2 separate regions of the Homo sapiens genome follow, and region 2 is linked to region 1. Evidence: fine-mapped expression QTL. A gene starts in region 1. The other region holds a variant in brackets. All regions are shown on one strand. Distances are from middle to middle. Region 1 holds the start of TBC1D22A (TBC1 domain family member 22A). Region 2 overlaps TBC1D22A (TBC1 domain family member 22A).

Evidence for each region.
Region 2: its variant is fine-mapped to the expression of TBC1D22A in tibial artery (GTEx, PIP 0.90).

The regions. Positions count from the first base shown.
Region 1 is chr22:46,755,557-46,770,463 of GRCh38, forward strand. TBC1D22A (TBC1 domain family member 22A) reads left to right here and starts at 7,094. Exons shown (of 13, transcript NM_014346.5): 1 at 7,094-7,292. The coding sequence starts at 7,231. It overlaps TBC1D22A-DT (TBC1D22A divergent transcript), which reads right to left and starts at 6,972. Exons shown (of 1, transcript NR_186691.1): 1 at 6,355-6,972. RefSeq lists enhancers at 6,141-6,975, 6,712-6,841, 7,542-7,621, 8,552-8,621, 8,662-8,741 and 5 more and a silencer at 7,742-7,801.
Region 2 is chr22:47,164,473-47,179,379 of GRCh38, forward strand. It overlaps TBC1D22A (TBC1 domain family member 22A), which reads left to right. Exons shown (of 13, transcript NM_014346.5): 13 at 9,026-11,221. The coding sequence ends at 9,154. Among named protein-coding and RNA genes, the nearest start is that of TBC1D22A-AS1, 260 kb to the left of the region's middle. RefSeq lists enhancers at 384-961, 6,782-7,281, 11,379-12,469. The variant A/G (reference allele first, on the strand shown) is at 8,088.

The sequences.
Region 1 (14,907 bases):
AAAATCCTAAAGCTCCAACATAATCCTTGACTCCACATCCTGGATCCTGGTGCAAGGGGTGGCGTCCCAAGGCCTTGGGCAGTCCTGCTTCTGTGGCTGCTCTATGGGTTGGGGTGGAGTGCCTGCAGCTTCTCCAGGTGTAGGTGCAGCTGCTGGTGGCGCTACCATTCTTGGGTCTGGAGGGTGCAGTCCCCTTCCCACAGCTCCACTAGGCAGTGGAGTTCACTACTGTGAACTGTGTGTGGGCCTCCAACCCCACATTTCCCCTCCATACTGCCCTGGTAGAGGTTCTCTGTGGGGGCTCTGCCCCTGGTAGAGGTTCTCTGTGGGGGCTCTGCCCTGGTAGAGGTTCTCTGTGGGGGCTCTGCCCCTGGCGGAGGTTCTCTGTGGGGGCTCTGCCCCTGGCGGAGGTTCTCTGTGGGGGCTCTGTCCCTGGTGGAGGTTCTCTGTGGGGGCTCTGCCCCTGCAGCAGGCTTCTGCCTGGGCACTCAGGCTTTCTCATACATCCTCTGAAATCTAGGTGGAAGCTGCCACCTTTATTCCTGCATTCTGTGTGCCCACAGGTTTAACACCACATGGAAGCCACCAAGGCTTATGGCTTGTATTCTCCAGAGTGGTGGCCCAAGCTATACCTGGGGCCTTTGAGCTACAGGCGGAGCTGCAGCAGCTGGTATGTGGGGAGCAGTGTCCATAGGCTGAGGAGTGTCCTGGGCCTGGCCCCTCAAACCATTCTTTCCTCCTAGGCCTCTGGGCCTGTCATGGGAGGGGCTGTCTCCAAGATCTCCCAAATGCCTTTGAGGCCTTTGTTCCATTGTCTTGGATATTAGCACTTGGCTCCCTTTTAGTGATGATAATCTCTCTAGCTAATGGTTGCTCCCCAGCCTGCTTGGATTCTTTCCCTGCCACATGGCCAGGCTGCAAATTTTCCAAAATTTCATGCTCTGCTTCCCTTTTAAATATGAGCTCCAACTTTCCTTTGCTCCAATATATGATCATTGGCTGTGACAAGCAGGCAGGCCACCTCTTGAATGCTTTGCTACTTAGAAATTTCTTCTGCCAGTTACCCTAGGTCATTACTCTTAAGGTGTCTTTACAGCAATGCCCTGCTTCTTGGTACCAGTTTTCTGTGTTAGGCTACTTTTGCGGTGTTTATAAAGGAATACCTGAGGACGGGTAATTTATAAAGAAAAGAGGTTGAATTGGCTCATGGTTGTGCAGGATGTACAGGAAGTGTCGTGTTGGTCTCTGCTAGGTTTCTGGTGAGGCCTCAGGGAGCTTTTACTCATGGTGGAAGGTGAAGCGGGAACAGGCATGTCACATGTTGAGAGCAGGAGCTAGAGAGCTGTATTTCTTTTGAAAACATATTCTTTGATTTATTTATAGTTTAAGATAAGCTTGAAAAATATATACTTGGTTTAAACAATCATACCCATTTCCTATTGTGGTTTTCTACTTCCTTATTTGTAAGATTCCCATATATTAACCCTTTGTCAGACATAGCACATATATTTTGTCCAATTAAAACATTTTTTTTGACAAACAAGTAAACATTTTAAGTTGTCAAATCCACCAGTTTCTCTCAACATGGCCTTTGGTGTTGTAGTGGATATTGGGATTGTTCCTGGATATTGGGATTCTAACCCTCCCTTGTTGGGCAGCAGCCACAAAATTTGGAAGGATTGACTCTCATTGCCAGCTACAATGGAGCATCTGCCAGGTGACAGGTCCCCAAATGACACTGGATGACCCAGCTCTTCCCCCTCTTGCTTAGAATTTTTGGGCAGAATATACAGAGGTTGCAACATCCTGAGATAAGGTGGAACTGTCCCGAACAGCTCAGGCTTTGTGCTCATCTCCCCTAGATCAGGATGTCCTGCAATGCTGTAGCCCAGTGGACCCAGTTGCATTTGGGGTAGAGAACCCAGAGTAGAGTGTGCTTTTCACGCCCCTCAGCTGTGGTGTGAAGTGGGGGCACCTGCAGACAACACTCTAGTGCCCTGGGTAGCTTTCCTGATTGCTGGTGGACTGGCTCGCCATGGATCCTAGGCTTGGGTTGATGTTTGGGGCCTCTCTGTGAATAATAAAGTTGCTTTGTCTGACGTGTTTTGCAGGTGTTCTGTTTTACCAGACTAGACATTAAGAATGCAGTGGGTAGGCCAGGCGCGGTGGCTCACGCCTGTAATCCCGGCACTTTGGGAGGCTGAGGTGGGTGGATCACGAGGTCAGGAGATCAAGACCATCCTGGCTAACATGGTGAAAACCTGTCTCTACTAAAAATACAAAAAATTAGCCGGGCGTGGTGGCGGGCGCCTGTAGTCCCAGCTACTTGGGAGGCCAAGGTAGGAGAATGGCGTGAACCTGGGAGGTGGTGCTTGCAGTGAGCCAAGATTGCGCCACTGCACTCCAGCCTGGGTGACAGAGTGAGACGCCGTCCCAAAAAAAAAAAGAATACAGAGGGTGGAGGTATGACAGCTGCAGCAGCTAGGTCAGCTTTGAGCCCCTGCCAGAGTCAAGAACCCTTGCAGAACTCTGGCTGCTGGGTTTGTGCAAAGCCTCCTGGCAGTCTTAGGAAACTCAGCAGAAATTGGTGAGGTGTTTAAGTGTGCTCTCCTGGAATTGGTAAGCAATGTATAGTGCTCCCTTCCCGGGGACTGATACTAGTTCACAGTATTTCTGCTCTCTAGCATCCTGACTAGAGGTAAGCACATGATCCCAGGGGCCCAACAGAGGCATCCTGTGACCTCAAGGGGAAGTTGTCCTTGGCAAAGACTTAAGAGACTGACAGAAGGAGACAGGCCCCTTGGGTCATTGTTGAGCTGCTGTATCAGCCCTTCTCCAAACCTTCTGAGCTACTTCTGGGCTTTTTCATTAACCAACTAATTCCCTTTGTAGTATAAGCTAATTTGAGCTGAACTTTGTCATTCTTGCAACCAACAGCACCCTAACTCATCCTGACTTAGTGTCAGGAAATGGCACGTTGCTAGTCCCTGTAATATAAAAATGGCTGAAAGGAGTTGGGGAAGGGGGCAGTGAAGACGACGCCTGCCTCTCGCGGTGTGAAACTGGGGACCTTTGCTATATGCCGTCTATTATTGTGGTAGGCTGAATAATGAACCCCTGAAGATATACCAGGACTTAATCCTGGGACCTGCAAATGTTACCTTAAATGGCCAAAGGGAGTTTGCAGGTGTGATTGAGCTAAGGGCCGGGTGATGGGGAGATCAGCCTGGACCGGATTATCCAGTGGGCCTGACGTGAGGTCAGAGGGATCTAGGAGGAATCGGAAGGAGAGAAGATGATGTGATGATGGCAGTAGAGATTAGAGTGATCTGCTTTCCAGACAGAGGAAGGAGTGTCGGCCAAGGAATGTTAAGTGGCCTCTAGAAGCTGAAAAAGGTAAGAAACTGACTCTCCCCTAGAACCTCCAGAAGGGGGCAGCCTTGCTGACGCTTTGAGTTTAGTGCAGTGAAGTGCTAAGACTTTGGACTTCTGACCTCCAGGATTGTAGGAGGGTAAATGTGTATTGTTTTCAGCCGCTAAGTCTGCAGCATTCTGCCAACAGCAGCCTTAGGAAACCAATACAGATAGAACAGTCAGCTTTTTACTTTGGGGCACAGGCTCGGTGCCTATGGACGGTACAGCACCAGGAAACTTAGGAGGCAGAACCCACCAAGTGGGAGTGTGGCAGCTCACTCAGTAAGGTCCTGTGAGAGATATTCTAAGCCCGGAGCAGGCCATCTGAAAGCAAAGAAAGCAGAAAACACTTCCCGAGGAACCCAAATGGCATTGCAAATCCAGCCATCCTGAAATACTATCCCAATTTTTTTTTGTTTGTTTTTTTGAGGCAGGGTCTCACTGTTTTCTAGGCTGGAGTGCAGTTGTGTGATCCTAGCTCACTGCTGCCTTGAACTTCTGGGCTCAAGTGATCCTCCTGCCTCAGTCTCCTAAGTAGCTAGGACTAAGAGTGTTTACCACCATGACTGGCTAAAAGAAAAAAAAAAAAGTTTCACAGAGATGGGGTCTCCCTATGTTGCCCAGGCTAGTGTTGATCTCCTGGTCTCAAGTGATCCTCTCGCCTCAGCCTCCCAAAGTACTGGTATTATAGGTGTGAGCCACTGTGCCTGGCCTGCTGCACTTTTGTTTGCCTTATCATGTAGTTCAATGTAGCTCAGTGCATAGCACAGTTCAAACTCAATAACTATATTTTAATGTATTATGAAACATTTTATACATGTAAAAACTCATAAAGAATATAACCAACACCTGAATATAGCCCATCTGCCTTAGGAAACAAAGCATAATAGCACAATTGATCCGCTATGAATGAATTCCTTCCTGTTCACAGTCCCCACCTGTACCTATAGGCAACCACCCTCCTGAATTTATCTTTTACCATTCTGGTTTTTTTTTTTTTTTTTTGAGATAGGGTTTGGCACTATCGCCAAGGCTGGAGTGCAGTGACATGATCACAGCTTGCTGCAGCCTCAAACTCCTGGGCTCAAGGGATCCTCCTGCCTCAGCCTCCTAAAGTGCTGCGATTACAGGCATGAGCCACCATACCTGGTCGCATTCTCATCCTTTAAAAGAAAATAGTACTAAATGGTATCATACCATGTGAATTAATATTCAACTTTTTCTCATTCAACACTGTGGAGTCAGGTGCGGTAGTGCTTGCATCTGTACTCAGCTACTCAGGAGGCTGAGGTGGATCACTTGAGCCCAGGATTTTGTGGCCAGCCGGGGGAACATAGTAAGCCCCATTTCAAAAACAACCCCACAGTTTGCAAAATTCATTTATGTTGATGTATGCAACTAATGTATTCATTTTTACTAACTTATGGTATTCTACTGCATAACTGTGTAGATTATCGATTCTGCCATAGATGGCATTTTGGTTGCTTCTCCCCCAGACCCCAACTACCACTAGAAGCAACGTTGCACTGAACATTCTTGTGTTTGCACGCATAGGCAAGGTACTCTAGAGCACATACCAAGAGTGGAATTGCTAAGTTATAGAGTATCTTTGCTAGAAATTGCTAAGTGGCCATCCAAAGTTAGTGAATGAACGTACACTCCTACTGGCAGTGCAAGAGAGTTCTGCTCTGCTCACAAATCCACATCCTTATTAAGTTTGGTAAAGACAGGTTTTTAAGTTTTTGCCAATCTGTTAAGTGTAACATGGTATGTCCTTAGTTTTAATTTGCATTGCTGCTCAATACTTGTTGCAAAAATGAATAAAAAATGTTCCATTCCATACCTCTGGGATTTGAGAATCTGTCCCAATTCCTAGGTCCCATATGTAGACTCCAACATCTGTATTACTTTGGCTTTCAAAACTGGCCTTCTACTCAGACTTTCTTTTTCCATCTTCACGTTTCTGTTGTGATCCTAGTAATCCTTTGCTTAGCTGGTTTTGAAGCCTTCAAGTCAATCTCAGCCTCACTCCTTCGCCTGAAAACAGTAGCTAGCAAAGTATACGGTAAGCTATAAAAAGCACCCGGATCTAAGGTGTAACCAGTCACTAAGTGCTGCCAGTTTTTCCTCTGTCAATTGTTTCAGTTCTTCCTTCCTTTCCCCTTCCATCAGGTTAATCCTGCTGTCACCTCGCTCACTGGTTCTTGCAATAAGCCAGACTGAGCTGGAAAGAACCGCCATGGTCCTCAGTGTTGTCTGTAGGGGACCTCACTGTCTGAGGCTGTCAGGGCTCTGTCAGGAGGAGACCCCTGGGGCCTTCTGAGCCCTACTAGGAGAGGATTCTAGGAGAGTAGGACGCCTTGCACATAGTAAGTACTAAGTCAATGTTACTTACCAGTAAATGAAGAGGCATGGGAAATTGTTATTATTTTTGAGACGGAGTTTCGCTCTGTCGCCCAGCCTGGAGTGCAGTGGCACGATCTGGGCTCACTGCAAGCTCTGCCTCACGGGTTCACGCTATTCTCCTGCCTCAGCCTCCAGGGAAATTCTTAATCAGAAAATATGTCTTAGATTTTTGTTTTAAAAGAGAACTGGCAGGAGCTCCAAATACACTAAAGCTCCAGTCTGAAATGACAGTCCCTGAGCATTCAATCTTTGGTCTAAGAAGCACAGAAATGTAATGCAAACCAGACACGGTTTTTTTAGTGATTTTCTGCACACACACACACACACACACACACACACAGTAAAAAGATCTAGTCATAACGTGTGCACCTGCAGTTCCAACTACTGGGGAGGGTGAGGCAGGAGGATCACTAGAGGGCAGGAGTTCGAGACTAGCCTGGGCAACATAGCAAGACACCCACCCCCAGTCCCCCCCGGAAAAAAAGAATAAAAAAGGTAAAAATAATTTTAAAAAGAGTAAAAGGAATGTAAAAATAATTTTAATGCATTTTATTTAATCCAATACATTAAAAATGTTACCTAACATGCAAACAATATACAAATTATTTTATACGACGTCTTTGGAATCCTGTATTTTACACGTAAAGCGCATCTCACTCCGGACTAGCCAGGTTTCAAGCACGTGATAGCCGCACAAGGCTGGAACCCAGGCCTGGGGAATTAATTCTTGTCCTCGGTGCTCAAACCATTCTTCCCTTCAAGCCTGGCCTAATCCCCAGTCTCTCTCATCTCTTCGAATACGCTCCGCGGTTATGCCCCTCACCTCACTGCACTGCAAATATTTCGTCCACTGAGTATTTGCTGATCGTCACTCAGTGCCGGGTGACCCAGCTTGACCAGCACCCGCAGCCGCCCTGCCACTGTTGGGCCGGGTATGGTGTGTCTGGCTTCCCTCTGTTCTGGGCCGGCTCCGAAACGCGCTCAAGAGAAATCGGAATCAGACACGGGGCAGTTCAGCTTTGGAAATGAGGAGCTCGAGGCTCCTGGGAGTCCGTTGCGGGCAGGTGGGCGCCGCTGTTGTGTCGGGAGAGCCAGGAGCGACAGACTCAAACTCAGAAACCCAACCACCTCCGCTCCCTCCGCGATGCGTGTAACGTGCGTTGCGCGGCGTCGCCCTTTAATAACGACGGGCGCTCGGAGTGCTGCGTCACTCGCCACCAGGGACTTAGGCGGGACTTCCGGGCGCGCGTAGGCACAACTTCCGGAAGGAGGCGGAAGAGCTTCTCGGCTCTAGGCTCTGGAGTCCCGGGAGCAGTGAGGGGCCACCCGGGGCACAGGAAAGGGCCGCTAGGGGAGGGCCGGGTGCACTCGGGGTGTCTGGGCCGCGGGTCTGAGGGATGAGGAGGGGCCATGGCCAGCGACGGGGCCAGGAAGCAATTCTGGAAGCGCAGCAACAGCAAGCTCCCGGGCAGGTGGGTGTGCCGCGGAGGGCCAGGTCGGGGTCAGGGGTCAGAGGTCAGGTGGCCGCGTTGGCCTCCTGGGCTGCGGGTGGAGTCGGGGGTCTGGAGAGGGCAACTTGGACTCTGAGGAGACTGCTGGATGGTGTGACGGGCGTTGGGGGGCTCGGAGGTCGGAGCGTGGGGTCTGGGGGTGACAGTGGCTGCACGTAGGATCGAGGCTTGCAAGGACGAGGAGGAGCTATTGGCGTTTTTCCTGACACTGGCAGGCTTCTTTCCGAGAAACTCCTGGGCTCCTTGGGGAGGCTGGAAGGAACTGATTCGGGTCATGCTGTGAAGTTTGGTGGAGTCCGGAAGCTGGCCGGGCTGAGGCCCCCCGTCTGCTGGGTGGATCAGTTTCTGCAGGGGGTGTGGTGTTTTTGACCCACTTGATTTGCCTGTGGTCTCTTGAGGGCTGCGGCTCTTGCCTTGAGCATAGAAGAGGACTAGAGTTTCCCTGTGAGTTTCCATGTTTCTGCTTGCTGGTGTCAAAACCACCTCCTATGTTGTGTTAGCAGGAAGTTTTTTTTTTTTTTTTTTTTTTTTTTTTTTTTTTCTTCGGCTGGAATGACCTGGGTACACCCTAGATGCTATACAGCTCCAGAGCTCCAGAGTCCTTGTCTGATTGCTGTGGCGCTGAGCTATGCCAGGGCCCTAGGGAATGAGACATTACGTGGAGGGTACCTAGGATAAAATCAGCCACTGGTGAAAACAGATCAGAGATAAGCAAACGTCAAGATTTCAGAACATAGTTCTGTTCCAAAGCTGAAGTCTGGAATGCTGAAAATTATGAATTGTGTTACGAAGATAAGTCTGAGTAGAATCATTCATAAACACAGTAAAATGGTTTGTACTCCTGTTTCATAATAAATATTATTGTTTGAGTGTTTGAATGATAAACTTTGGAATTTACTGCATCCAGTTAGAAAAGTTTACTTTTGGCCAGGTGTGGCGGCTCACGCCTGTAATCCCAGCACTTTGGGAGGTCGAGGTGGACAGATCACCTGAGGTCAGGAGTTTGAGACCAGCCTCACCAACATGGAGAAACCTAGTCTCTACTAAAAATACAAAATTAGCTGGGCATGGTGGCACATGCCTGTAATCCTGGCTACTTGGGAGGCTGAGGCAGGAGAATCACTTGAACCTGGGAGGTGGAGGTTGCAGTGAGCCGAGATCGTTCCATTGCACTCCATCCTGGGCAATAAGAGCGAAACTCTGTCTCAAAAAAAAAAAGGAAAGTTTACTTTTAAGAGTGATCTGGGGGTTAGCAGCGTGAGTTACTGACAGCTCAGACAGTGGCTTTGAGAATGAAGGGAGTCATCAAAGGTGGCCGGAGACCCTATTCGACTCCACAGGACCGTGCTTGATTCGAGAACAGTAAGACCTTTCAACAAAACCAGTGTCAGGGTCCAAGGTGAGTGAAGATTCTGGAATGGTGGTGGGTAGGAGGTCCTGGTAGTGACAGGAACAAATGCTGTAGAACATAAGAGTCCAGGGAAGAGGAGCCACATGACAGTGTAACTTTTATGTGTTACTTTTAGGTCTTAAGGTTTTGGTTCCTCATCAGTCTAAACTCTAATTCTTAATCAGCTTAGATGTAAGAATAACAGAGCTGCTGTGTGGAGTTACAGCAGTGACTCAACCTTTGGATTGAAGGCTGTGGCTCTTGGTAATTTGTCCTTATACTGAGTTGAATTTATGTCCATCTGGAAACTATGGATGTGACATTTGGAAATAGGGTTTTTGCACAAGTAATCAAGGTAAAATGAGGTCATACTGGATGAGGGTGGGCCTTAGTTCGTCAACTAGTATTTTTATAAAAAGAGGGAAATTTGAATACAGAGAGACACACACAGGGAAATGGCCCTATGGAGACAGAAACAGAGATTGGAATAGTACATTTACAAGCCAAGGAAAGCCAGGGGTTGCTGGCAGCCACCAGAAGCTAGAAGAGGCAAGGAAGGATGCTCACCTAGAGACTTGACAGAGAGCATGGCCCTGCAGATGACCACTTGATTTTGGGTTTTTGGCGTTTAAAACTGAGAGAGAATAAGTGTCTGTTGTGTTAAGCCATTCAGTTGGTGGTAATTTGTTATGGCAGCCACAGGAGACTAATACAGTCTCCAGCTTTCTTCTGTGTGAACCTGAAATACCGAACACCAGCTTTCCTTTTCCTCTGACTTTGATGCTATTCTGTGTCTTAGGCACTTTTGAGAGCAGCTTCTGTATTACCTTTGTGAAGTTGGAGTCTTGGAGAGTTCGAGGCTGTCACTGAAGAGGGCAGAAGAAGAAGGAGAGGTTGGGTGCACCAGGAAGGCCTGTGAAGCCTCTGTGTCTCCCATCCGTCTTGTGGCTCAAGCCTCTGGCAGTGCTGCTCTTTCAGGTGGCAGGCTGGAACTCTTCCCTGAAGGAGGAGTCACAGAGGGGTGCCCGTTTTCCTATCAGTAGTGGTGATTGGTCACTAGCTGCGTATTTATTTAGTCCACACCTATGCAAGCACAGTGCTAGTGGAGATCCTAGCCAGGTTCCTGTGGCTTTGGCAGCTCTTTCAATTGTTTCCCATGATTGTTTTCTTTCTTTTTTTGTTTTTGTTTTTGTTTTTGTTTTTTTTGAGATGGAGTCTCACTGTGTTGCCCAGGCTGGAGTGCAGTGGTGTGATCTTGGCTCACTGCAACCTCTGCCTCCCAGGTTCAAGTGATTCTCCTGTCTCAGCCTCCCAAGTAGCTGGGATTACAGGCGCCCACCAGCACGCCTGTCTGTTTTTTTGTATTTTTAGTAGAGATGGGGTTTCGCCATGTCGGCCAGGCTAGTCTCGAACTCCTGACCTCAGGTGATCCATCCACCTCAGCCTCCCAAAGTGCTGGGATTATAGGCGTGAGCCTCCATGCCTGGCCTTGTTTTCCTCCTTTTTTTTTTTTTTTTTCTGAGACAAGAGTCTCTCTCTGTAGTCCAGGCTGGAGTGCAGTGGCATGATCTCAGCTCACTGCTACCTCCACCTCCTGGGTCCCGGTTGAAGCAGTTCTCCTGCCTCAGCCTCCTGAGTAGATGGGATTATAGGCACTGGCCACCACGCCCAGCTAATTTATGTGTGTGTGTGTGTGTGTGTGTGTGTGTGTGTGTGTGTGTGTGTGTGTATTTTTTTTGAGACGGAGTCTCACTCTGTTGTCCAGGCTGGAGTGCAGTGGTGCGATCTCGGCTCACTGCAAGCTCCGCCTCCCGGGTTCACGCCATTTTCCTGCCTCAGCCTCCCGAGTAGCTGGGACTACAGGCGCCTGCCACCACACCTGGCTAATTTTTTATATTTTTGGTAGAGACGGGGTTTCACCGTGCTAGCCAGGATAGTCTCGATCTCCTGACCTTGTGATCCTCCTGCCTCGGTCTCCCAACGTGCTGGGATTACAGGCTTGAGCCACTGTGCCCGGCAATTTTTGTATTTTTAGTAGAGATGGGGTTTCACCATGTTGGCCAGGCTGGTCTTGAACTCCTGATCATGTGATCCACCAGCTTCAGCCTCCCAAAGTTCTGGGATTACAGGCGTGAGCCACCACACCCAGCCTTGTTTTCCTCTTTGTTTTTGAGTGCAGCCCTCATCTCAAGGAAACTCAGGAGGAAGACTACACCCACTGTACAATACAAGACTAGTAAGGGATCTTTCAGATAGTTCAACTCTTTTTTATTTTTGAGATGGAGTCTCGCTCTGTCGCCCAGACTGGAGTGCAGTGGTGTGATCTAGACTCACTGCAATCACTGCCTCCCGGGTTCAAGTGATCTTCCTGCCTCTGCTGCCAAAGTAACTGGGATTACAGGCGCCCACCACCATGCCCAGCTAATTTTTTTGTATTTTTAGTAGAGATGTGGTTTCAACATGTTGGTGTGGATGGTCTCGATCTCTTGACCTCATGATCCGCCCGCCTTGGCCTCCCCAAGTGCTGAGATTCCAGGCATGAGCCACCGTGCCCGGCCCACACCTCCTGTTTTTATGCAGCCTGAACTAAAGTCCCCCTTTTTTGCATCAAACTCAGTGTTGTTGGTGCCTCTGGCTTCCTGTTCTCCCTGGTATGTGCTTGCTTTCACTAGTGAGATCCACAGGTTTAGGAAAAGTATCTTTCTCATTCTTGCATTGTCAGTACCGATACCTGGTGTTTATTCCGAACTATCTCCTCGATTAGCCTGGAGAGTGAGTGGTTTGGCCAGGGCTATAAACTGCAGGAGAGGTGGTCTTGCTGGTAGACCCTCGGTTTATGCACACCCTGGTCCTTAGGTTGCATATGTGGCTGACGCTTTCCTAGAAACTTTGTTTCTGGATGAGCCAGGATGTGTGGTGTGGTAGATAGACCCTCCTAGTCAGAGGACTAGGAGTTGGTGGTCCAGATTTTAACTTTCTTTTTCCGGTAGTGGTCTTCACCAAGTTACCTCTGGGGCCATCAGTGTCTGTATCTGTAGCACAAAGCGGTTGAGTTTGGTTTAAGTAGCTATGGCAAATGGGGAGATATCTTTGGCTTAGCACGATTCTCTTTGAGGAGAAAAGAATGGGCTTCTTGGACCAGTTTTGAGAATTTGATGATTTGCTGATCCAGCAAATATGTATTCAACCCATAGTATGTGTTAGGAACAGCCCCAGGTGCTGGAGATAATATTAGTGAACAAAATAGACCTAGATCTCTGCTCTCCCAGAGCTTACAGTGCAGTGGGAGAGCCGGGTATAAATAACATAGCTCAGTTAAATGGAGTTAACTGTTGGAAGGTGACAGCTGCTATCAAAACAATGCTGGGAAAGAGGACTAGGTGGCTTAGTGGCAGGTGTGGTGGTGAGAAGGAGCCCTTCACTGAGGTGACATTTGAGGAAAGATTTGCACGAGGTGAGGGAACAGGCCAACCAGGAGGCTGGGGAAGAGCGGTCCTGGCAGAGGAGTGAGCAGGTGCAGAGGACTCCCAGAGCGATGCTGGCGTGCTTGAGGAGAGGAGCTGGGGCCAGGGTGGGTCTGGCCGAGAGAAGGGGAGAGTCGTGGGGTGCGTCATGAAAGGTGGTGGGGTAGGGCCTCATGACCACAGTGAAGACATGGACTGTTCTTTGATTCTGGCTGAATGGGGAACCTTTGGAGGGCTTTGAGCAGAGAAGTGGCATGGTCTGCATTAGGTTTAATGGGATATCTTTGGCTGCTGTACTGAAGACAGATTGGAGGCGTTGGGAGTCGGGGCAAGGGCAGAAGCAGGGAGACCAGGAGGCCAGGGTGCCGCAGCGTCCAGTGGTCACTGGTGGTGGCGGCTTGCACCTGAGTGGAAGCTGTGGTGGTGGCAAGAAATGGTAAGTGATAAGAATCCGAAGGTTTGGCCGGGCGCGGTGGCTCACGCCGGTAATCCCAGCACTTTGGGAGGCTGAGGTGGGTGGATCACTTGAGGTCAGGAGTTTGAGACCAGCCTGGCCAACATGGTGAAACCCCGTCTCTACTAAAAATACAAAAGTTAGCCAGGCGTGGTGGCAGGCGCCTGTAATCCCAGCTGCTTGGGAGGCTGAGGCAGGAGAGTCGCTTGAACACAGGAGGCAGAGGTTGCAGTGAGCCAAGGTCGCGCCACCGCCCCGCAGCCTGGGCAACAGAGCGAGACTCTGTCTCAAAAAAAAAAAAAAAAAAAAAAAAATAGAATCTGAAGGTTCAGTCTCTGACTGTCTGGGCTGGTTCTTTCCCGGGCCGCTGACTCTCTTGGCTCCCGAAGGGCTGTTGCTTTCCGCAGTTGCAGTTGGAATTCTCGCCACACTTCACTTTAAAAATGCCAAGACAAAATCACAGCACACTGGGCTTGAGAACACAGGCAGTCTTTCAGTGTGGGTCTGATGTTTGCTATTTTAGCTCAGCTCCGCCTGGCAGGGTGTGGTCTGCTGACAGAGGGTATGCAGGCAGCTGGGGTATGTGGAGTATGACGTTTGAAAGTGGCATGGTGGTGGCTGGGCGCTCTGGCTCATGCCTGTCATCTCAGCACTTTGGGGGGCCCAGGCGGGTGGATCACCTGAGGTCAGCAGTTCGAGACCAGCCTGACCAACATGGTGAAACCCCGTCTCTACTAAAAATACAAAAAATAGCTGGACATTGTGGCAGGCATCTATAATCCCAGCTACTCAGGAGGCTGAAGCAGGAGAATCATTTGAATCTGGGAGGTGGAGGTTGCAGTGAGCTGAGATCGCGTCACTGCACTCTAGCCTGGGCGACAGGGCAAGACTCTGTCTCAAAAAAAAAAAAAAAAAAAAAAAGAAAGTGTTATGGTAGCAAGAAAGGCCCAAATTGAGCATGGCAAGGATGTGAGTGCTGGGATAAAGCTGGAGCACAAGAGGGTTCTTAGTGATGTGGCTCTGACAGCCTTCAGCTTACATTGCCAGAGCCACGAGATGTCTGTGAGCAAATCAGACGGTCGGCTGAATAGGCCACAGTCCGTCCTCAGCCGAAGGAGAGGCACTGTTGGGGATAATGAATTCATTTGGAAAACGTTTACGAGCTCCTCTCCTGTGCCAGGTGCTGTGGTGCGTGCTGAGCAAGCCATGTGGCTCTTCACGGCTGGACGCCTGCCCTGTGAACACATGCGCACAGACTGCAGTGCTGGGCAGGTGGCAGTCCCGGGACCCTGGCAGAGTAGCAAGGCCCTCACTGGGTGGAATGCTCATGTCCTCCTTACACAGGTCCCGCTTCCGCCGAGACCTGGCTGTACAGCAGGAACCGATCTGGCTGCTGAGGTCAGGGGAGGGTGTATAGGAGTGGGGAGCGCTTGACTGGGGAGGAGGGGCATGGAGGGTGGTGAGCAGGCACTGGAGCTGCTTCCAAGGCCATGGTGAAGATCTGAGCTGTGGTCCTAAGAGCCATGAGAGAGTGTTGAAGGGTTTTAAACAGGGAGGGGTGTGATACTGTGACACTGTTTGTCATCCTTGAAGAGAGGGCGAGAGAGGAAACTGGTGGGCTTCTGAGGAGGCCGAGGCCAGATGCTGTGGGGTTGGAGAGGATCGGGCATGTTCAGGGTACACATGGCACACTCAGGATTCACTGATGGGCGGGGTGCTGGGGGTCGAGGTGATCTCCAGGGTGCTGGCCTGAGGGGATGGGAGTGTGGTAGGCAGAATACTGGCCCCCTAAAGGTGTCCTCATCCTCATCCCTGACCCCTGTGAATATGTTCTGTTACATGGCAGAGGGGAATTAAGGTCGCTAATCAGCTGACCTGAAATGGGGGAATTGTCCTGTTACCTGGTGGGCCCAGTGTAACCTCACGAGCTTTTGGACGTGGTCAGAGACATGGTGTGGGATGGACTCCACCCACAGCGGCTGGCTTTGCAGATGGAGGAGGCAGCCACCAGGAATGTGGCGCGGCTTCTAGAAGCTGCGAAAGGCCTTCTGCAGATGGCTAACAGGAGAGCAAGGCCTTGCTCCTGCATCCGCCAGGAGCTGAATTCTGCCGCCAACCGGAGTGAGCAGGAAAGGGGTTCTCCCTTCGAGCCTCCCGGAAGGGGCACAGCTGGCTGACGCCTGGACTTCAGTGTGATGAGACCCATGCCGGATTTCTGACCTTCAGAACTTCGAGATAGTGAATGCATGTTTTAAGCTGTGGTAATTT
Region 2 (14,907 bases), 410 kb after region 1:
TGCCTGGGGCATGGGACGGCCTGTGCCTTGGCATGGCCTGTGTGTCGAGTGCTGGGTCTCCCCTGCCCTTGCTGAGGAGACTGGCGGTCTCTCGGCCACAGAGGGTTCCTGGGCCTGTTTCCTAAGGCTGAATGTCAGTGTCGAGTCAGGAATTTCCCAGCCCAAATGGAGACACGGGAGGAAGGAAATGGCCTCATTCAGGAACTTGAAGTGGGCCAAGCACAATCTGCGGGTCTTCTGCAGCCTGAAGTTCACTGGGGTCGCTCCGCTGGCAGCGCTGACAGCAGCGGACCTTTTCGCCATGATTTCATCTCAGCTGGTCCCATTCCTTCCTCTGCACATGTACGTCACGGAAGCGGATACTTCATGTTGAATATGGATTCAGACCCTGCAGCCCCTGCGCAGGAGGAATACAAATGCTCCACTGTCTGCAGAAAGGCCCGGGGGTTTGGGTAGGATCAACGATCTTTGACCTCTGTAATGTGTGGTCCATGGAGACTGTTGTCATTTCGGGAGTAGGAGTGACAGTGAGGGGCCAGTGAGACCGAGAGGGGCCTATCCGGTGCTCACTCCAGCCTCTCCACAGGGCAGGGGGTGGAGTCCAGGCATGGCAGGGCCTTTGTTCTTGTTCTGGCCTCAGCCCTCCTGGCCTCCTCCTGCTCTGTCAAGTGTGGCCGTCGTCCCCTGTGATTGCCAGGGCTCGTGATTGCCAGGGCCCTGTGGTGAGGAGGATGTGTCAGGGGTAGGGGAGTGACTCGTGTTTGCCTGTCTCGCTCCAGGGGGTGCGCGGACCCCTTCAGCCCTCATGGCACCTGCGAAGGGCTCCTCTGCCACCTCCCAGGAGGTGCCTGCAACTCTTGCAGATAGAGGGCAGTGGTCATGATGAGCACGAAACAACAGGGCGAGTTTCTGGAGCTCTTTGCACCAGCACGGGTATCGCTGCCCCTCTCGCCTGGGGGTGGCTCCCCTCGCCATCGCCATCTCATAGACAGGGGCTTGTCCTCCAGGGACAGTGCTTGGAGAGCCAGGTCTAGCCTGCTGGGCTCTGGAGCAGGCATGTCGCCTGCCTGGCTCTAGAGCAGGCATGTCGCCCGCCCCACTGCCCCCGACAGTGGTATGGGGAATGGGACTGCAGTGTGGGTGCCACAGGGTTGCCGGGCTTGCTGCATGCCTCCTGGGACAAGTTGCCCAGCCTGTCCGCTCCTCAGGTTCCTCACCTAAAAGACGGAGGGGTCAAGAGAAATGCCCGAGGGCCTCCTGCTGGGAAATGTCATGCTGCTGCCCTGCCCCCCGGACCCCGGGGGTCCTCAGCGGCCTCCCCAGGTGGCATCAGGGCCTCCCCACTGCAGACAGCTGGCACTCCACAGCACCTGCTGTGGTTAGGGTTTCTCACCAGGCTGCACACGCGGAGTGTCAGGAGGCTGTGGAAAAGCAAATTAAACCAATTAACCCTGCTCCCCGCGTCGCATGTCACCGTGGTGAATCCTGTTTCATCTTTCTCTGTTAGGGGAAGAAAATAACAAGAGTAGGCAAATGGGCCTTTTAGCCCCATCGTGATTAATTTATTCATCTTTGCATGTTGGCAATTTGTAAACTTCTGACTTGAGTAGCTTTTAAGTGGACCTCTGTGTGCTCTCTGCTGTGCCCGGGAGCAGGTGTTGACGAGTTTTGCCACTGCACGCACAGCCCTTCCTGCTGCCTGGGGGAGCCTTCCGGTATCTTCAGTGTGCACAGAGGGTCCAGGGGAGGGAAGCACTGGTCAGTGCTGCCAGCAGACCCTGGCCTGGAGCAGGCAGAGGAGGGAGGCAGGATTTATACCTAGAACAGTGCTGTCCAGAAGGAATGTGTCACCAGCCACATAGGAACGTGAAAACAAAGAAAGAGGCAGGTGTCATTAATTTTAATAAAATATTTAACCAACACCCAAAATACTATCATTTGAACCTAGAATCAATATAAAAATTATAAAAGAAATAGTTTACATTCTTTTGTTCTTAATAAATATTCAAAGTCTAGAGTGTGTTCTGCACAGACCCGCCCTGTTTCAGACGCACCACTCATGGCCCTTGAAGGCGAAGTCTGCGGTAGCCTGCATCCCATGGTTCCATTACGCTTCTCTGCATAGTGCTGGACACTGTCTCTTTTCTTGTTTATTTCTCCATCTGTTGCCTGACCTACTGGCACACACACTCATACATGTACGCCCTGCAGGGCTGTGGGCTGAGTGTCCTCAGTGCCTGGAGTGGGGCCCGGCATGAGGCAGCCCTGGGCATGTGGTCACCCAGTGAACACCTGCAGTGCCTGTGAGAAGGTCTGGCATGAAGGGCCTGGACCTCAGGCCCATTTGCTGGAGGAGAGAGGCCGGGGTACAGGTGGGAGCTGGTGCTCCAGGTGCTCTAGCTGCAGTGTGGGGGATGCCCCACAGCACCTGGCCTTCTCCCTACCCTTGTAAGCAGAGCTCCAGCACCAGGCGGGGCACTGTCCTGGCAGCTGCCCAGCCGGACAAGGAGGATCCAGCATGATCTCAGAGCAGACCCTATACTTCTTTTATTTTAAAAATTATGTTTAGTATACAGCTAATGCATGTTTATTTTGAAAAGATTAGAATTTATGGATAAGTAAAAAATAAATCATCACGTTTTCTCCCAACGATGACCACGTTCGTCTTTGGCTGATGGTCCTTTTGGAGTTCTTCATGCAAATGCATGTCCTTGAATTTGCATATACACACAGAAAGGTAACACCCAGGTAACACCCAGGCAGGTGCACAGCGGGGAACCTTCATGTGCCTGGCTCATCGTGGGCACCAGAAGCCCCGTAGTGGAAGGTGTAACCAGCCATTCAAGCATTGCCGAAGGCACTTTGCACACATTCAACAACCTAATAAGGGAGTTATTATTTTTCTGGCTTTTTCACTCCAGCGGTTCACCAAGTGGGAAGGAGTGGCACCCAGCAGCTTCTTTGCTCCCATAACTCGGCAAGTGGGAGGGAGGGTTACAGCTCTTTTACTCCTGCCGCCCACAGCTCAGCAAGCATTACAGCTCTTTTGCTCTCGCAGTTTGGCAAGTTCTGGGTTCTTGTCCCACAGCCAAGAGGAATAAGGTACGTGGACGCCAGAGAGTAAGGCAGAGTAGAATTTTACTGAGGAACAGAAAGAAAGCTCTCAGCTGCAAGAAGAGACCTGAAAGCAGGGTGGCCATCTGTGAGGGTAAGTCCAGGGTTTTTATGGGCTTTGAATGGGGGAGTGCATGCTGATAGGTCCATGGATGGGCTTGGAAAAAGCACCATTCGATTGGATAAAGGGCATCATTCAGAAGGAACCAGTTGAAAGAGAGTGGGTAAGACGGGGATGGAAGTTCTCACTCCGGTCGTGGACTCTATCCAGAACTGGCAGTTAGGTGCTCAGGCTCTAAAAGTATCCTTGGCTTGAAGGTCAGGTTTCACTGGGGACCCATCCCTGTCTGTCTAGGAACTTGTCTGTCTCCTGTTGCTATCACTATTATTATCCCATTTTACAGATGAGGAAACTGAGGCATGGAGGGTTATGAGACTTGCCCAGGGTTGTGTAGCTAATAAATGCAGGGCTGGGATTTGAACGTGGCCGTGGGGCACATTCAGATGTGCTTTTAGTTGCTTCACCGGACTCTGCGACGTTCACTGCCCAGCAAAGTGCTGTGGGCTCAGTTTTGGGGATATAGGGACACACAGACCTGTTGAAGTAGTGGTGGAGATGCTGGGGAGAACTCACTGCCCAGCAAAGTGCTGTGGGCTCGGTTTTGGGGATATAGGGACACACAGACCTGTTGAAGTAGTAGGTGGTGGAGATGCTGGGGAGAACTCACTGCCCAGCAAAGTGCTGTGGGCTCGGTTTTGGGGATATAGGGACACACAGACCTGTTGAAGTAGTAGGTGGTGGAGATGCTGGGGAGAACTCACTGCCCAGCCAAGTGCTGTGGGCTCGGTTTTGGGGATATAGGGACACACAGACCTGTTGAAGTAGATGGTGGAGATGCTGGGGAGAGCAGCAGGGACGCATCTGCAGTGCTCGTGGGGTCAGGCAGCATTGGGGGCGGGCTCGGGCCCAGCACTCCCGCATCTAATCCAGTGATCTTGCTTCCCTCGCTGCTGCCCGTTCTCACATGAGCCTCAGCCCTGGGCCAGCCACTCAGAGCTCAGGGTCTCGAAGGAACCCAGGGTCTGCAGTCAACCACCCACCCACCCACCCACTGTTCTGGAGCCTGGGGCCCTAGGACACGGGCTTGTCACCGTCTCACCCTTCCTGGGAAGGCCTGGCACGCGGGGGAGGTCAGTGTCCTCCACGGATGGCACTAGGATTCGTTTGACTCAGGAAAAATAAAACCCTTTTGGTAAGAAGTAGCCAAAGCCATGGCGATATCTGCTCTTCAGTGTCAGGAGCCTCGCCTGCTCTTCAGCATCGGAAGCCTCACCTGGTCTTCGGCATCGGGAGCCTCAGCATTGGGAGCCTCGTCTGCTCTTCGGCATCGGGAGCCTCACCTGCCCTCCGGCATTGGGAGCCTCACCTGTTGGAACCCGCCCGGGGCAGGAGTGAGCGGCATGGCGGCTTCTGTCTAAGTGTGGTCCACTGCTGTGTGGTCCATGGGGGGAAACTGTTGGAAACATCCCAGCTTGGCTTCCCACCTCCACCCTGTGTCCCACTCACTGACGTTTTAGAGAGATGCCTTTGCCTGCATGGTGGTGTGTGAGTCAGGGCTCCACTTCTGCCTGGGTGGTGTGGGTAGGGCCAACCCCCACCCCCACCGGCCCTCAACTTCAACAGGGGTTGCCTGGTGGAAAGCGTGAGCAACTCTGTCCACTCTTGTGATTCATGATGTGTCCGAGAGTGTCTAGGGCACACCCAAGTCGCCCACCATCCTGAGAACCAACACATCCCTCTCCCCAGGCCCCACCTCCCAGATCCCAGGTCAGTTGCTTGGGCTGGGGCCAGGACAATGGGGCATTTTTTTGAGCTCCTTGGGTGCTGATGGACATGTGGTCAGGCCTGAGAACCGTCAACCTCCAGGCCATGCAGCGAGAGTCTGATTCTGTTGCTTTTGATCCCTCACTGATCACAGACCCCACAGCCTTTACAAAGGGCCCTTGCAGACACTCGGTGTCCACTGGAAGGATTCTCGGCACACAGGCTGATGGAGAAAGGCAGGGTGCACTCCACGCTGCCCTCTGGCTGTGGCTTTGTTGAGATGGTGGTGCCCCAGGGACCGGGGGAGGGACGGATTGCAGACCTGACGCGACCTTGACTTCTACAGCATCAGTGTGATGAGCAGAGCCTTCCTTTAACTTTTAGATCCACAGATGTGGCCATTAATTGTTTATGGAAAAGTTAAGAATGAAAATGCAAGTGCCGTCTATAGTTTTCTGGGCTGGGCCCTGGGCAGGCCTCTCTCCACCTGCCCTCCTGGACAGGCAGCACCGTCATTGCTGGGAGAGCCATGTCCCTGAATGTGACCGAGGGATGGCTTCGCCCGTGGTGGCCCCTCTGCCTGCCTGGTGTGGGTGATGCAGAACAGCTCTTGGCTAATAAATGTGCCGCGTTTCCCAGACAGGAGACGACGTGGCCTAGTGCATAAATAAGACAAGCCTTTTTAAAAAAGAAATCTGTATTTAAGGATGTGTTTGGCTGTGTTCTTCTCCTCCCGTAAAGGTCACCCAGATAGATTTTTCCTTCTTTAGCATTGCAGGCTGCGAAGAACTGGGCATTTCTATTCTCCCTCCATCCAGTGAACCTGGCGGACTAAATTAGATTCTGAAATTGAGTGTGCAGTAGAGTCGGTGAGTTACCGTAATGGGAGGGTACTGCTTCTCACCTTGCAAGGAGCGAGGTCATGATAATATGAAGCGAAGTGGATTAAAAATAAAACCAAAGGTATTTATTTATGACCTGCTCAGAATTGGATTGGCATCCATGTAAGTTGCATCTAATGGTGAAAGACAGCAGATTGATGTTGATATGTCCCCAGGGACTTTTAGCCAGTGAAATTCGCTCCCTGAATTCAATTTAAAGGCCCACTGAAAGTATCCAAAATGCGAAAGGAAATGGAATTGAGGAAGTGGGGGTGGAAGCCCAGCAACTGCGAAATAGCAATTGGAAGACGGTCCTGGTGTGTAACCCTCCTGATGCAGGACCGGAGAGAGGACAGTCCTGGTGTGTAACCCTCCTGATGCAGGACCAGAGAGAGGACAGTCCTGGTGTGTAACCCTCCTGATGCAGGACCGGAGAGAGGACAGTCCTGGTGTGTAACCCTCCTGATGCAGGACCGGAGAGAGGACAGTCCTGGTGTGTAACCCTCCTGATGCAGGACCGGAGAGAGGGCAGTCCTGGTGTGTAACCCTCCTGATGCAGGACCGGAGAGAGGACAGTCCTGGTGTGTAACCCTCCTGATGCAGGACCGGAGAGAGGGCAGTCCTGGTGTGTAATCTTCCTGATTCGGAAATGGAGAGCGCAGCTCCGGGATGGCCGGGGGGCCTGCCTCAGTGAGGGTGGGGCAACATGCAGACGGCAGCCTCCGGCACAGCCAGGATGTGAGCCCAGGTCATCTGTCCAGGCTCTGTGCCTGCACAGCTCAGCTCATCCTGGCTGTGCCTATGTGGAGAGCCTGCCATCCTTATCTCCAGATGAAGAAGAGTGTGGCTTGGAGAGCCAGGCCCACTGCCCAAGACCACCTGGACAGGAAGACAGGATGTGAACTTCAGAGCCCAGCTACCCCCCATTCCCCTCCATGCCAGTCTTGCTGGGCTGCGTTTTCTCGAGGCAGGCGACATGGGCATCCCGAGCCTGTGGCCCTCCCTGTCCCTTGTCACCTGCTAGGAGTGGGGAAGGGCAGTTCCAGCACCCTGAGGGCTCCTCAGCCGCCTTCCTGACTTCCTGGATCCAGCTTCTGTTTGGGGTGGGAGGTAGGAGAAGCCGGGGAGCCTGCAGGTGGCCCCCTGGGGGCAAATTCTCGAGGACCAGAGCCCACAGGGCCATCTGAGCAGTGTAGACCCCTCCCTCAGGGAGTCTGCCCAGCTTCATGACAGAGCCTGGGCTTGGGCTGGCCCTGACCTGATGGTCCCCTGTTTCTCTTCTGAGAACCCCCACTGCAGGAGGCTGTCTTGGCCACTCAGCCCTCTCTGATCCCTACTTCTGCCAAGCCCTCTGTGTGTTGGGGTCCCCGGAGACCTGCCCTGCCCTTGGTGGGCTGCCAGCAGCTGTGGATGTGGGCGTGGTCATGTGGGAGGGCGGGGCTGTCAGGCGGTGGTCGTGGGGGGTCCCCCGAGGACCTGTGCTTTTCCTTCCCCGTTGTGGCCTCAGTGGACGTAGGTCAGTCTCCATCTCCTCAGTGTCCGCATCCCGGCCTCCAGACCATGAGCTCTGGAGACAGTCGCCCATGTGTCTTTTGGGGGTGGGACTCAGTGCCCCCATAGCCCATCTGAGACACGGCCCAGCTGCAGGCCAGAGGAGCCCACCCAGCACTCCCAGTAAGCCCAACGCACCTGCCCAGTGCGCCCGGTGAGCCCAGTGTGCCTACCCAGCACTCCCAGTGAGCCTACCCAGCACTCCCAGTGAGCCTACCCAGCACTCCCAGTGAGCCTACCCAGCACTCCCAGTGAGCTGTGTGCTCACCCAGAGTGCCCAGTGAGCCCAGTGAGTCCGGTGTGCCCGCCCGGTGTTCCCACCCAGCATGCCCAGTGAGCCTTGTGTGTCCACCCAGTGTGCCCGCTCAGTGAGCCTGGTGTGTCTACCTAGCATGCCCATGGAGCCCACTGTGTGCCCACCCAGTGCTGGCTGTACTGCTGGCCGTATGTGTGTTTTCCCAGTCTGTCCAGCAGCCCTGACAGTAATTTACTACAGTAAATAAAAATTTGTACTATGTGAATTCAATGCAATAAATGCTGTGACTGGGAAGTAGAATGGGAGAATGAAGGGTACAGGAGGCGAGATTTTAAAAATACACATGTAAGATGATTTTATCCACACTGAACGACTTATAATTGTTGCTTATTCCCTATAGTTCCCTATTTTCCTACTTACATGCATGTCATTCACCTTTATGTAAAACCTTTTACCTCCT[A/G]TCTTTACCTATGAGAATCCTACCTGAATTTTAAGAGTCTGATCAAATGTCACTTCCACAGAAAGGCCTTCTTTGGTTGTAACTGGAATTAATTTTTAAATCTCAGTCTAAGGCAAATAAGCACATTAGAAAGCAATAAATAAATAAATGGTGGCCCCATTTTGCAGAGGAGGAAGCTGGGCCTCGGGGTGGAGTCATTGTTCCAGGGCACCAGGTTGGACCTAGACCTGAAGCTGGGTTTGGTGGAGCCCTGCACCCCAACCCACTGGTGTGAGGTGGTCATGCAGGAGGGGCCAGTTGGCGCTTTGCTGTGCTCCTGGGCTCCCGGGGTGGGCCTGAGCCGGCTCCGTTCTGTGATCCCCTCGTGTGGGCTTCATCTGCTGATGGTGCTGGTGCCCGGAGGGGTCTCCTGGTGCACAGAAATCTGTGCTTAGTGGCAGTTCCAGGGGTGCTGCGGTACTTCCTGGGCTGATACAGGCTTTGTGGGAGTGGGAAGCTCCTGGGCGGAGGCTGCAAAGCTGCAGCAGGGCCCCGAGAGCTGGGTCTCCCCCTGAGGGGCAGGGGATTCAGTTAAATGAAGCTCTGGGCGGCCCCTGCCACGACATCTCAGATGCCGGACTTGGAGCTGCGCAGTGGGCCTCCTGCCTGGCTGCTGGGATGGGGCGGTGGCCGTGGGGCGAGGCCTGGGGCCCTTCTGGGGTTGAGCAGGGAGCAGCTGCCGGCTGGGCAAGTTTTCCTGGGTCACCCACCCTCCACTGTGGGTCACCTCCTCTGACCTGGGCTTGTGTCTTTCTCTCCAGTTTTCCTGGATCACCCGCCCTGCACCGTGGGTCACCTCCTCTGACCTGGGCTTGTATCTTTCCCTCCAGTTTTCTGGGGTCACCCGCCCTCCACCGTGGGTCACCTCCTCTGACCTGGGCTTGTCTCTTTCTCCCCAGGAGCTGCTGCTCTTCCTCCAGAACCTGCCCACAGCCCACTGGGATGATGAGGACATCAGCCTGTTGCTGGCCGAGGCCTACCGCCTCAAGTTTGCTTTTGCCGACGCCCCCAATCACTACAAGAAATGAGCCCAGGCCCACCCGCAGCTGGCCTCACTGTCCCGGGTGGCGCGCCCCACCTGCCTGGCTGGTGGTAGGCCCCTGTGAGCTGGTCCCGGGCTGCTAAAAGGCCTTGTGAGGTGGCCCCACCCTCCAGGGGAGCTGGTGAAGATGGGCCACAGACCTGGTCTAGGGCTGACAAAGACAGGGACAGCCTTTGTTTTCTGAGATACCAAAGAGAGCCAGGGGAGGGCCCCGGGTTCGGCGGCCAGAGGCAGGTCAGGGGTCCCCTCTCCCTCTCCCTGCAATGTCCTTGCCAAATGACTGCCTCGTGCTGCCCCTAGTCCGGGGCAGCCTAGGAGGCCGACCCTCTTTGGAGTCCTGCTGTCTGGGTGCCAGGGCCGGAACGAGGTAGTGGCCATCTCATACCTACTCTGAAATGCAAAACTTCTATTCTGTTGAGTGAAAGAATAAAATGTAGACAAAATCTAGACCGAGACGTTGCGCTGACCCGGGGTCTCTGTGCCGCGAGGTCCCCTCACAGCTGTATTTCACTGCTGCTGGCCCTTTCCCTCCGTGTGTTTTCCTGCTTGCTTGGTTTAAACGTGGCTGGGAAGCTGAAGGCTGGAGTCCAAGCCGTGAGCCCGCCGAGTGCCTGGGAGGCCGTGGGACCAAAGGCTGGGAGCAGAGGGAGGCCTCGCCATCGCCTTACTTTCCACCTTGAACCTCTTTTACAAGAGAGAAACCCCCACCTCCCTGAGGTCCAGGGCCAAGTGGCCCCGCCACGCAGGTAGGCGCCGGCCTCAGCCAGAGCCCCTGGAGGCCCACCCAGGCTGTCGGGCCATGTTGGGCTGGCAGACGGGCAGGGGGTCGCGTCCCTGTCATCAAAGCCCTGAACCACAGTGCTCTTCTCACCGCAGCCTGGAAGCGGAATGAGCTTTTGGAGACTTCCTGGGACTTGCTGTCCTTGTCCAGGTCTGCCAGGTGTAGGGGAGGTGTGACTGGTTCCATCATGGACCGGTTCCTCCATGGACCGGTTCCTCCGTGGACCGGTTCCGCCATGGACCGGTTCCGCCATGGACCACTCCTGCCCTGGACCACTCCTGCCCTGGACCGGTTCTGCCGTGGACTGGTTCCCGCCGTGGACCAGTTCCCGCTGTATACTGGTTCTGCCCTGGACTGGTTCCCGCTGTGGACTGGTTCCTTGGGGCTCTAAGTGCGGAAGGGCCCAGAGCTGGTCCCTGCCCAGCGCCCTGCTAGGGCTGTGTCCTTGGCTCCAGGGGCCTTGGGACTGGCTTCCCAGCGTTCCCTCGGTGTGTCACAGGCTGCATGACCCCTGGAATGCGGGCAGGGCCACAGCCACAGTCTGTCTGATCCCTGAGCCCAGGACAGGCTCACGTCCTCAGCGACCCACTGGTGACTGACTTCCCAGACTCTCCTCTGTCCCTCAGGAGCAGCCGTGTCCTCTCCCAGGCCCTAGGACACTGCCAGAGACTGTGGGACATACAGGCATAAGTGATGTGTGTGTTTCTGCTTCTGTTTTAAAAATCCAGGGTCATTACACACAGCATGGAAATTAGCACAAAATGCTGTGCAAACGTCAGATGCTCCCAAACCAGCAAAGGGATGGGCTTGCTTCACATCAGATGCGGGCACGCCTTACCCCTGCCTTCCGTGTCCCCACCCCAGGGTCAAGGGTTCCTCAGACCAGCCATGCCTCCTCCTCCTGCCGCCTCCTTTTCTAGATGGGGAGGGGATTCCGTCACAAGAAGAGCCGCCCCTCGGCCGTGTGCAGGAAGCCCCATGTCGCTTTGCCGAGATCAGCCCTGGGAGGATCCCCTTCTCCAGCTCAGATCATGCCGTGTGGCCAGAAGGCTGCGGACACAACTGACCTGCTTCTCGAGGTGGTTGATGTTTTAAACAGGAAGCTCCACGGAGTTCAGCCCTGTGTGCATTTCCTCATGTATGTAAACGCCAAGACTGAATGTGAGAGGTGTTGGCCGCGGGCCTTAAGTCTGAGCAGATCCATCTGGAATGTTCGGGGTGTGCTGTCTGGATGTGGTGCGCTAAAAACACGGAATAAAGATCAGTGACAAAGCCGCGGCCTTGGCCTGTGATTCGAGGACTTGCCCATCGAGGACAGGGGCACCCTGGCCCAGCCCTGCCGAGGGTCTGAGCTCAGGGCCATTGCGGCGCACCAGCGTGGGCCCGGCAGCACCCGTGATCTCGCTGCCCCCCGCAGGACCTCTCAGGGAGATGGGGCTGCAGCTGCTCAGGTGGTGCAGGGATGCCACTTGCCCGGGCGGGGCAAGACTCAGAAACCAGTCTGACCCCCGAAGCCCGGCTCTGCACTAGCTGGAACACGGGAGTGTGGGGTCCAGGCTGGCCCCTGTCAGGCTCCTGAACAAGGGACCTCCCCTTGGGCCACATCTGTCAAGCACCTGCTTTGAAAAGGGCTGTTCCGGGGTAGGCACCAGGGTCTGGGGTCCCCCCCGCCTCTCCTGGGATACACTTGCCTCACCCTCACCCACACACTGAAACACCCTCCTTGCCCTGTGTTACTGAAGCAAGGCCCTTCAAAGGGCCTCAGTTTCTCAGGGCAGCTTTCCAGGTGCGCCACACCCCTCTGAGTAACCCCGTCTGGGTGCCCCACCCTCAGGTACCCCACACCCCCCTGGGTGCCCCACCCTCGGGACCCTCCCTTGGCAGCACTTGGCTTTCCACTGCCTTGTGCTGTCCGCTGACGGGTGTGGGGTGTGCTCCTGTCCCCGCGGGTGTGGGGTGTGCCCCTGTCCCCGCGGGTGTGGGGTGTGCCCCTGTCCCCGCGGGTGTGGGGTGTGCCCCTGTCCCCGCGGGTGTGGGGTGTGCCCCTGTCCCCGCGGGTGTGGGGTGTGCCCCTGTCCCCGCGGGTGTGGGGTGTGCCCCTGTCCCCGCGGGTGTGGGGTGTGCTCCTGTCCCCGCGGGTGTGGGGTGTGCACTACTGACCGGCTGTGGGGTGTGCTCCAGTCCCCACGGGTGTGGGGTGTGCTCCTGTCCCCACGGGTGTGGGGTGCGCACTACTGACCAGGTGTGGGGTGTGCTCCTGTCCCCGTAGGTGTGGGGTGTGCTCCTGTCCCCACGGGTGGGCTGGTGGCTCCACAAAGTGGGAGTAGCCTCTTCACCTCTCTTTCCACAGTGACCCAGTGCGGAGCTGAGCCAGGCAGGGCTGCCTTCCTGGGCCCGGTGGCCCGGCACATGGGCTGACCTCACTGTTGCCTGGCTGTGGTCTGCAGGGTCGTAGGCTGCAGGACGGAGATCGGCTGTCCCCAGCAGCCACCAGGTGTTCAGCTCCTGACTCCAGGTCACAGCCCAGCAACTGCCATTCACCTTCACGATTCCCCGGAGTTTGCAGCTCAGCAGTTGGCTCCTCGGGCCCAACTTGAGGTCTTCACAGCCTGTGCAGACTCTGCTCCTGTGGGTGGCCCGAGCCCAGGGGTCCTGAAATCAATCCCTGACCTGTGGTGGCTGCTGTCCTGTGCACCTCACCCTGCCCGGTCCCAGGGAGAGGCTCGGCCTGCTGGCACCACTGCTGTGCCCTTGGCAAGGTCAGACGCGTCGGGGAGCATTGGGGTCCTGGGGAGTAGGAGATGGAGAGTCTCTGTGGTTTGTACTTTTGGAAGAACTAGGAGGTGGGACGCTTCTGTGCCGTGTCACCGATGGATGGAAACAGGAGGAATACTGTCTGTGTTCAAGCAGACCCACTCCGCTGAGGACTTGGGGACAGGCTGCAGAATGACACGCGCCATCGCAGGCTGCAGCATGCCAGCCTCCATGCCGCCGTCCTCCAGAGCTGGAGGCTCCTCGTCAGCCCTGTGGCCCCAGTGATCTGCTCTCGGCCGCAGTCCTGGGGAGTTTGCCCAAGACTCAGACCCCTCGGGGTGTGGACCTCCCTGGGGCCTTCCCAGCCCCAGTCCACCCCACCGTTCCTCTCCTCTCTCAGCCCCAGCCCCTTGGCTTCCTTCTGGCTCTGCACTTTGCCCTGCGGGATTGCGGGCTGCTTGGGGTGGCCCCCACTCAGCTGTGAGGCCTTTCCACACCCACCCTGCAGCTCCTTGGCATGGAGGGTCCCCAGCACAGGATGGCCTCCACCCAGGAGGCACACGGCCGCTTACATGGTCCTGTGTGAGTGACCCAGCCGTAGTCCATTTTGTTGACAAGATGAGGCTGGCTATTCTTTCTTTTTTTATTTTTTTATTTCTTGAGACAGGGTCTTGCTCTGTGGCCCAGGCTGGAGTGCAGTGGTGTGATCTCAGCTCACTGCAACCTCTGCCTCCTGGGTTCAAGTGATTCTAATGCCTCAGCCTCCCGAGCAGCTGGGATGACAGGTGCCCGCCATGACACGCAGCTAATTTTTTTAGTAGTTTTAGTAGAGACGGGGTTTCACCATGTTGTCCAGGCTGGTCTCGAACTCCTGACCTCAACTGATCTGCCCACCTCGACCTCCCAAAGTGCTGGGATTATAGGTGTGAGCCATCGCGCCCGGCCTGATTATTCTTTTAGGAAAAAAAATTATATTCAACTTCCAGATAAGTGGATGTAAATATAAAAATTACCCCCAAATACTCAAAAATACATGGCTATTTTTATCATTGGGAATGGTAAAAGGCTTTCTTAGCATGACGCCAGTGGCAAAAACAAGATAGAAAAAGACTGATGATATATATCCGTAGTATGCGCTACCAAAGCAAATGGCAGGGACGACTAAGACCCAACCTTCATCACCAAAGACAAGTGTGAATGACACGCTGGTTCACCTAGGCAAGGCGGATTCAGATTCCTCAGCATGCGGAGTTCCTGGAAATTGATAAAAATGGGCACAGCACAGAAAATGGGCAGTTCACAAAAGTGGTGCAGGTGACCCATGAGAAGTTCACATCACCAATGGTTACAGAAATGAAAATCATTCACCAGCCACTTGCCCCCACCAGGGCTGGCTGCGTGACCTTGGGCTGTGTCTATGATCATCTGTTATGCAGCAATACAAAACAAATACCCTCTCTCTTTTAGTCTGTATTTTTTTCTGAATATTTTGCAGTGGTTTTTCGTTGTTGCTGTTTTTACATTTAAGCTGTGAAGTGGCAGACACAACACAAACCTAGCTCTCGGAGAATCATTACAAAGCAGACACCCCATGTGATAGGGTTTGGATGTATCCCCACCCAATTCTCATCTTGAATTGTAGCTCTTGTAATTCCCATGTATTGTGGAAGGGACCTGGTGGGAGATAATTGAATCATGGCGACGGTTTTCCCCACACTGTTCTCATGGTAGTGAATCAGTCTCACGAGATAGGATGGTTTTGTAAGGGGAAACCCCTTTCGCTTGGCCCTCATTCTCTCCTGCCGCCATCCATGTAAGACATGACGTTGTGCCTCCTTGCCTTCTGCCAGGATGGTAAGGCCTCCCCAGCCACGTGGAACTGTGAGTCTATTAAACCTCTCTTCTTTATAAATTACCCAGTCTCACGTATGTCTTTATTAACAGCATGAGAATGGTCTCATACACCATGTAACCACAACCCTGGTTGAGAAATAGAACATGACCCACACTGGATCTCCCTGTGTGCTCCCTCCTCCCAAACATGACACACCGCTGACTTCCAAACCATCCTTTAGTTCTGCTTATTTGTACACTTTTATTATATGAATGGAATTATACAATATATACTCTTGTGAACAACTCTTCCTGCTCAACTTTCTGTTTTTTGTTTTGTTTTGTTTTTGAGATGGAGTCTCACTCTGTCG